Regions from separate parts of the Homo sapiens genome. Here regions 2 and 3 are each linked to region 1. Evidence: fine-mapped expression QTL. A gene starts in region 1. Each other region holds a variant in brackets. All regions are shown on one strand. Distances are from middle to middle.

What was found. PIP is the estimated chance that this variant, and not a neighbour inherited with it, causes the effect. A credible set is the group of variants that fine-mapping cannot tell apart.
Region 2: its variant is the best candidate, but not a certain one, in a credible set for the expression of ZFAND4 in whole blood (INTERVAL, PIP 0.73).
Region 3: its variant is the best candidate, but not a certain one, in a credible set for the expression of ZFAND4 in whole blood (INTERVAL, PIP 0.89).

Annotation. Positions count from the first base shown.
Region 1 is chr10:45,671,682-45,674,338 of GRCh38, forward strand. It overlaps ZFAND4 (zinc finger AN1-type containing 4), which reads right to left and starts at 1,091. Exons shown (of 10, transcript NM_174890.4): 1 at 569-1,091. RefSeq lists a silencer at 674-1,393.
Region 2 is chr10:45,637,984-45,640,640 of GRCh38, forward strand. ZFAND4 (zinc finger AN1-type containing 4) reads right to left here. Exons shown (of 10, transcript NM_174890.4): 6 at 1,833-1,980. Among named protein-coding and RNA genes, the nearest start is that of ZFAND4, 33 kb to the right of the region's middle. The variant T/G (reference allele first, on the strand shown) is at 1,353.
Region 3 is chr10:45,633,877-45,636,533 of GRCh38, forward strand. All of the region lies in intron 6 of ZFAND4 (zinc finger AN1-type containing 4), which reads right to left. Among named protein-coding and RNA genes, the nearest start is that of ZFAND4, 38 kb to the right of the region's middle. The variant C/A (reference allele first, on the strand shown) is at 1,353.

The sequences.
Region 1 (2,657 bases):
TGGGGAGTGAGATGGGGGGAGGGATAGCATTAAGAGAAATACGCAATATAAATGACGAGTTAGTCGGTGCAGAAAACCAACATGGCACATGTATAGCTATGTACCAAACCTGCACGTTGTGCACATGTACCCTAGAACTTAAAAAAAAAAAAAAAATCAATTCCCAAAGCATTTCTCTCATTTCTTCTGAAAAGTTTCTAAAAACACAACTCCAAGGATGAAATGGAAGTTAAAGGTAAACAGGCAATAGCGCTGAATACGTAATTTCAGTAACTCAGAATTTTCTCCAACCTCTGCTCTAAAGAAGCTTAGCTACAGAAGAGCAGTTACCTTTGAAACATTTTCCCCAACATAAAGATATCCGGAATGTGAAGCTGCCATTAAAACTGTGACACAGATCTACATTTACTGATACATCAAAACATCCCTAAAGTTCGAAATACGAGCTACAGAATCACATCAACCGCCTAACTTGTCTGTAGCCTAAACTCTAGTCCGGAGTTCATCTGCAAGCGGAATTGGGAAGTATTTCAGAGCCAGCATCTCCTCGCGCCATCCAGGTACCTACACACTTGAGGCCACCGAGTCACCTGCGCAGCCGTTGCTCCTCCAAGACCAATCCGGGCTCCCCAGACCCACCGGCCTGAATCTGGAGGACAGCAGTCCGCGTGACAACAGCGACTCGGAGATCAGCACCCGTCGGGAAAGCCGCGTACCCGTTGAAGCTGGCGTCACGCCCAAAGGAACAAACGCCAGAGCGTGTGTCCTGGGCAAAGGCGGCCCGCCGCTCCGGTCCCCGGGCAGCAGCGGCCGGCGTCAGGCCGCAAGGCGAGGGGCGGGGACAGGACTCTACCCGGCAGCCCAGCGCCGAGCGCCCGCGCCACTCCGGCCTTGCGCCATTCCGGCCCCACGACGGCCGGCGGCGGCAGCGCGGCTGGGCTCAGCGGCTCGCAGCCCGGGCGCCCCCCCTGCCGGCCGCTCGCTAGCTCAGCCTCACCCGCAGTCTTGTCCGCTGGCTCGCTCGCCCGCCTACAGGTCGACAGGGCCCAACGACCCGGCGAGCAACTTCACGGAAGGCACTGGCCGACAACGCTCCGCTGCCGCCGCGCCCCGCCCCTTTGTGACACCACCTACCAATCGCTGGACGGCGCTTTCGCTGCCCTCCAATCAGCGCGGGCGGGGGCAGGCCTGGCCCCCGGACGTGGGCGGTTGCCGGGGCGCCAGGGCCCTGGGGCCTTCTTGGCATTCGCTGGAGGTTGTGAGTTACGAGGCCCGGATGTTGATCTTTTATTACTAGCAACACTGGACCCCTGACTCGTGCCCACGCGGGCGTCTGGAGGGCAGCCGCATGGCCTGCTGGGAACGGCGGGGTTGAAGCCGGAGCCGCCCTCCGTGAGACCCACCGGGGATCCTCTTCCAGGCGCCTGATTTGCTGGAGATAGGCGATACAGGCAGACGCTGTCCAGTCGGTGGCCTCTCCAGAGTGAGGGGCGCTCCTGGTGCGTTTGGGCCGGCCTGTCCTAACAAATCTGCTTTAGGCTTCACCGTCCCCTAATGTTTCTGGCCTCAATTGCCTCATCTGGAAAATGGGGGCATTACCGTGCCTGCTTGAAGACAAAGGCGAAAACAGATAACTTTCTGTAGTCCTCATACAATTTACTGAGAACTGTAGGCCAGGCAATGGAGTAGGCACCCTGGGCTCAAATCCCAGCGTTGGGTAAGCCCAGCCACACCTCCTGCTCCAGTTTCCAAGCTGCTGAGCTGCGGTGTAAACAGTAACTGGCTTCAAGCCAACACCTGCCTTTCAACCTAACATGGGAGCCCACTGCCTCGTTCCGTTCCCCCTACCGATTTTCCAACTCCGTGAACCTCCTTCACTAAGTGGGTTACTCAGCTGACAAAGAATGTCATCTCACTCCCACTGCGGGTTCACTCATCCTCGACTTCTGGCTCAGAGGAGCCAGTCTAATATGAAACTAAACATCTAATCTGTGTCTCCTGTCCTCTCTCATTCTTCTGAGACCCTACCCACCAACTTATCTCCACAGTTCAACGAACTATTGAGCATACACTGGGGGAGTATGGTGAGGCACTGGGCATTGATTCACCAGTCTCGCCGTTGGTTCCTTCTGAAACTCCACATATGCTTAATGCTAAATAGATTGGAGACCTTTGAGGACAGAGCTATGATGGTAATCATCTTTGCATTCCTGAGCCTAGAATAGGGCCTGTGATGGAGACTTACTGAGTAAAAACCTTAGCGTTTCTCACCCTTGCCTGCCCACTTCATTCACACTGGAGAATTGACAGCATGGACCGTGGAGTCAGGCAGGTGTGTTTAAAGCCTTGCCTCCCAATACCAGAAGCTCCATTACCTGGCCAAGTCATTCATTCTTTACAACATCATCATCATTATCATCTGCCATTCTTCAAGTGCCAGATAGTTGATAAGGGTCTTTACGTATTCTCTCCCCATCACAATCCTGCAAAGTTGGTAGTGAAATCCCTCGTCTACAAAGGAGTAAACAAAAGCCAATTAAAGTAGAACAATTTACCTATAATCAAACAGCTCTATGTCGGAAAGCCATATTTAAACTAGGACACAATACAAAAATCCAACCTTGTTCCATTATTCCACATTGCTTCCAGATTTTAGC
Region 2 (2,657 bases), 34 kb before region 1:
CACTTCACATAAAAAACGTATCTTAATGGTCAATAATCATATGAAAAGTCAATATTATTCCTCATTAGAGAAATATAAAAGAAAACCATTTACACAGTCACCAGAATGGTTAAAATTAAAAGGACTGACAATATCAAGTGTTGACAAGAATGTGGCATAAACTAGAACTCTCACGTTGCTGGGAAGAATGTAAATTGGTTCAAATGCTTGGCAAAATTGGCCGGGCGCGGTGGCTCATGTCTGTAATCCCAGCACTTTGGGAGGTCGAGGCAGTCAGATCATGAGGTCAGGAGATCGAGACCAACTTGGCTAATACGGTGAAACCCCGTCTCTACTAAAAATACAAAAAAAAAAAAAAAAATTAGCCCGGCGTAGTGGCGGGCGCCTGTGGTCTCAGCTACTCAGGAGGCTGAGGCAGGACAATGGCGTGAACCCGGGAGGCAGAGCTTGCAGTGAGCCGAGATAGCGCCTGGGTGACAGAGCAAGACTCTGTCTCAAAAAAGAAAAAAAACAAAAAACAAAAAAACAAAAAAACCAAAAAATGCTTGGCAAAATTGTCTGGCATAATACTAAAGTTAAACGTGCATCTTCCCTCTGACTCCGAAAGTCCATTGCTAGGTATATGCTCCAAAGAAACAAGTGCTATGTCCACCAAAGAATGTATGAGAATATTCAAAGGAAGTTTATTGATAAAAGCCAAAAGCTAGAGACAACTCAAATGTCCATCAAAAGGAAAAGAAAGAAGCAAATTGAGGTAAATCAATCACACAGTACAATAGTACACAACAATAAAAAAGAATTAACTGATACATACAACCACATGGATAAATCAAACAAATACTTTTAACAAAAGAAACCAGACCATACTCTCTATGATTCCATTTATATAAATTTCAGGAATAGGAAAAACGTATTTACGGTAATAGATGTAAGAACAGTCGTTATTTCTGAGAGTAGGAACAGGTACGTATTAACTGGGAAATATTATGAGGAAACATTCTGGAGTGAAAGGTCCTATTTTAATTTGGGTTGTGTCTACATGAGTGTATATAAATGTAAAAATTCGTCAAGTAGTATATTAAAGATTTTTGAATTTTATTATACATGAAAAGGAAGGGAGCCATTAATAGAGTAAAAAGGAAAGCAATAAAGTGGTAATATGAAACAAAGGACTTTTATCTAGAATATATATAAAACTCCAAAAAAAATCTGTAACAAAAAACATACAACCCAATAGAAAAATGGAAAAATATAGGTGTTTTATTAAAAAGGGTATCCAAATGCCCAATAAACATATGAAAGGTGCTCAACCTTCCAGGTCTCATGAGAGAAATGCAATTAAAACCACAATG[T/G]GATGCCACCACAAACAAAGTAGGATTACAAAAATTACAAAGGACCATGCCAAATACTGGTAAGAATATGGGAAAATGGCAACTCTCATTCACTGTTGTAAAGAATGTAAATTGGTTCAATCACTTTGGAAAAAACTGGCACTATCTACTAAATAGTAGATATCTTTATCCATAATAAATAAATATTAACATATTTTAAAAAGTAATTATTGCCAGATTAAGATTAAGCTCTCTTTTTTTATCCTTCTTAGACCCAGAATGATCTTTAAAATGATGTTAAGTGCAGTATAATCCCTTCAGGTGTGCTTCTAATCCAAAAAATCCAATTTATCCCTTTTAGAAGTTTAATAAATAACTGAGGCCAGAAACCTGAAATGAATAATACTTTATAATTTTTTCACAATGACCAACAGACCTCATTGCTGAGTGCTCTGCAGGGGTAAGCTAGAGATAAGCCTGGTCAAATGCCAACAGCTTCACCTTTTTGCTGAGATTCATGTTCTTCATCTTAGCCTTCAGCAGCTTCATCTTATTCATAGTTATTGAATTTTCAATTATCTGTTGCCCAGAAGAAGAAGGCTCAGTTTCTTCATCCTCATCTGTATCTGAATTATACATAGAACCACCACTGCAAAGAAAACAATAACTACTTGAAATTTTTCTGATACCTGCTCAGTGACTAAAAATGCTCTATATGAAACAGCAATCTATAGAAGTTACTAATGATAAAACACTACATCCATTTTGTCAATGTTAATGTCAGGAAAATATATTTCAAAGAATGTACTTCTTAAAAGAAAAAATGAAATGGGAATAAATATTATGATCTAGGATTACTGAAAATCTAGTATAGCTGAGCTTCTCTGAATTCAGTATATCATAAATGAAGATGTTTTGACACCTGCCATATCATTCCCAAAGAGGCAAAATCCATTTCCATGAGAATGTCTGATTTCATTTTATCAGCCAAGGCTGATAATTGTGCAACCCAGACAACAGGCTGATGAGATTTCCATGAATCAGAATTTTTTTAAATTTGGCACGGGAGAGAAGTACAGATTTTTAGTCATCCTGAGGAGATTCTCACTAAAAAAAAAAAAAAAAAAAGAATTCATACACAGGTGTCATCAGAACATTTTCTATTCTTAAGGAGCAAAAAACATTTTTTTTTTCTTGAGACAGTCTCACTCTTGTCGCCAGGCTGGAGTGCAATGGCACAATCTCGGCTCACTGCAACCTCTGCCTCCCGGGTTCAAGCGATTCTCCTGCCTCAGCCTCCCAAGTAGCTGGGACTACAGGTGTGTG
Region 3 (2,657 bases), 38 kb before region 1:
ACAGTTTTGTATAAAAGGAGACTATGAAAACATTACAACGAAATGCAATGCATCATTCTTGATTGGATCCCAGATTAAAAACAATATAAAATGCTATTAAGCACATTATTAAGACCTGGGAAATATGAATATAGATGACATAATGTGTATCAATCATAAATGAGTATGGTAACTGTATCATAATCATGTAAAAGGTGGCCCTTATTCTTAGGAGATACATAATAAATAAAGTACTTAGGGGAAGTGTCATGATATCTAACTTGCACATAGATCAGCTAAAGAAAAATCCAAACAGAAAGCAAATGTGGGAAAATATTAATTGATGAATCTAGTCTTATAACATTTCTAAATAATTAAACATTTCTCAGCCAGGCGCGGTGGCTCATGCCTGTAATCCCAGCACCTTGGGAGGCCGAGGCAGGCAGATCACGGGGTCAAGAGATCAAGACCATTCTGGCCAACATGGTGAAACCCCATCTCTATTAAAAATACAAAAATTAGTTGGGCATGGTGGCTCATGCCTGTAGTCCTAGCTACTGCTACTCGGGAAGCTGAGGGAGGAGAATCGCTTGAACCCAGGAGGTGGAGGTTGCAGTGAGCCGAGACCACACCACTGCACTCCAGCCTGGGCAACAGCAAGACTCCATCTCAAAAAAAAAAAAAAAGAATTAAACATTTCTCAAAATTAAAAAGGTAAAATAAGTTTTCAGACAAATGCTGAGAGAATTATCATCAGGAACCCTAAATGAAAAGAAGTACTAGTACTAGAAGTCCTAGCTGGAGAAATCAGACAAGAGAAAGAAATAAAGGGCATACAAATTTGAAAGAAGGAAGTCAAATTATCCTTGATTGCAGATAATATGATCTTGTATTTGGAAAAACAGAAAGACTGCACCAAAAAACGATTAGAACTGATAAACACATTCAGTAAAGTTGCGGGATACAAAATCAACATACAAAACCCAGTAGCATTTCTATATACCAACAATAATCTAAAAAAATCAAGAAAGTAATCTCATTTACAATAGCTACAAATAAAGTAAAATAAAATACCTAGGAATAAACTTATCTAAAAAAGTGAAAGATCTCTATAATGAAAGCTATAAAACATTGGACGACACAAAAATATGAAAAAATATTCCATGTTCATGAGTTGGAAGAATTAATATTGTTAAAATGTCCATACTGCCCAACGCAATCTACAAATTCAACATAATCTCTATCAAAATACCAATGACATTTTTCACAGAAACAGAAAAAATAATCCTAAAATTTACATGGAACCACAAAAGACACAGAATAGTCAAAGCCATCTAAGCAAAAAAAAAAAAAAAAAACAAAAAAAAAACAAA[C/A]AAAAAAAAACTGGAAGAATCACAATTATGTGACTTTAAATTATACTACAGAGCTACAGTAACCAAAACAGCACAGTACTGACATGAACATAGATGCACAACCAATGGAAAAGAACAGAGAACCCAGAAACAAGTCCACAGACCCACAGTGAACTTATTTTTGATAAAGATGCCAAGAACATACACTGGGGAAAGGATAGTCTCTTCAATAAATAATGTTGGGAAAACTGGATCCACATGCAGAAGAATGAAATTAGACCCCTTATCTTTTACCATATACAAAAATCAAATCTAAATGAACTAAAGACTTAACTCTAAGATCTGAAACTATGAAACTACTAAAAGAAAACATTGAAAGTAGGGTCTCAAAGACATATTTGTATACTTATGTTCATAGCACCATTATTCACAATAGCCAAAAGATGGGGGCAATCCAAGTATACATTGAGGAATGAATGGATTAAAAAAGTGTGGTATATAGCCATACAATGAAATATTATCCAGCCTTAAAAAGGAAGGAAATTCTGACACGTTATGACAATTTTACAAGACAAAAAACTTCTGGAGATTGGTTGCACAACACTGTGTTATACACTTAACATTACTGAACTGTTTGTACACTTAAGATGGTTAAGATAATTTTATGACATATGTATTTTACCACAAAAATAAAATTTAAAAAATTTTAATGGTAGAATCTAGATATTAGATAAATAAGTGTTCATGGTAAAATTCTTTCAACCTTACTGTATATTGGAAAAGAAAAATATAGATCAAAATTTCTCTCATGAATGAAATCGTAATGCAAAAATCCTAAAGAAAATATTAATAATTTAAATCTAAAGAAATGAAAAATACATCACAACCAAGAATGGTTCATTCTAACAATGCAAGACTATTTTATATTTTTAAAAAATCAGTTCATCACAATATCAGAATATTTTTATTCAGTGAAAAAATACTTACTTCTCTTTGGACTTCTTGACTATCAGTTACTTAGAAGTGTGTTATTTTCAAATATCAGAAAGCTTTCCACATATCTATTATTAATTTCTAATTTTATTCCATTGTAATCAGAGAGCATTTTTGTATTATTTGGAATCTTTTATAATTTATTTGAAACTGGTCTAGGCGCAGTGACTCATACCTGTAATCCCAGCACTTTGGGAGGCCAAGACAGGTGGATTGCTTGAGGTCAGGAGTTCAAGACCAACCTGACCAACATGGTGAAACCCCGTCTCTACTAAAAATACAAAAAATTAGCCAGGCATGGTGGCATGAGCCTGTCGTCCCAGCTACTCAGGA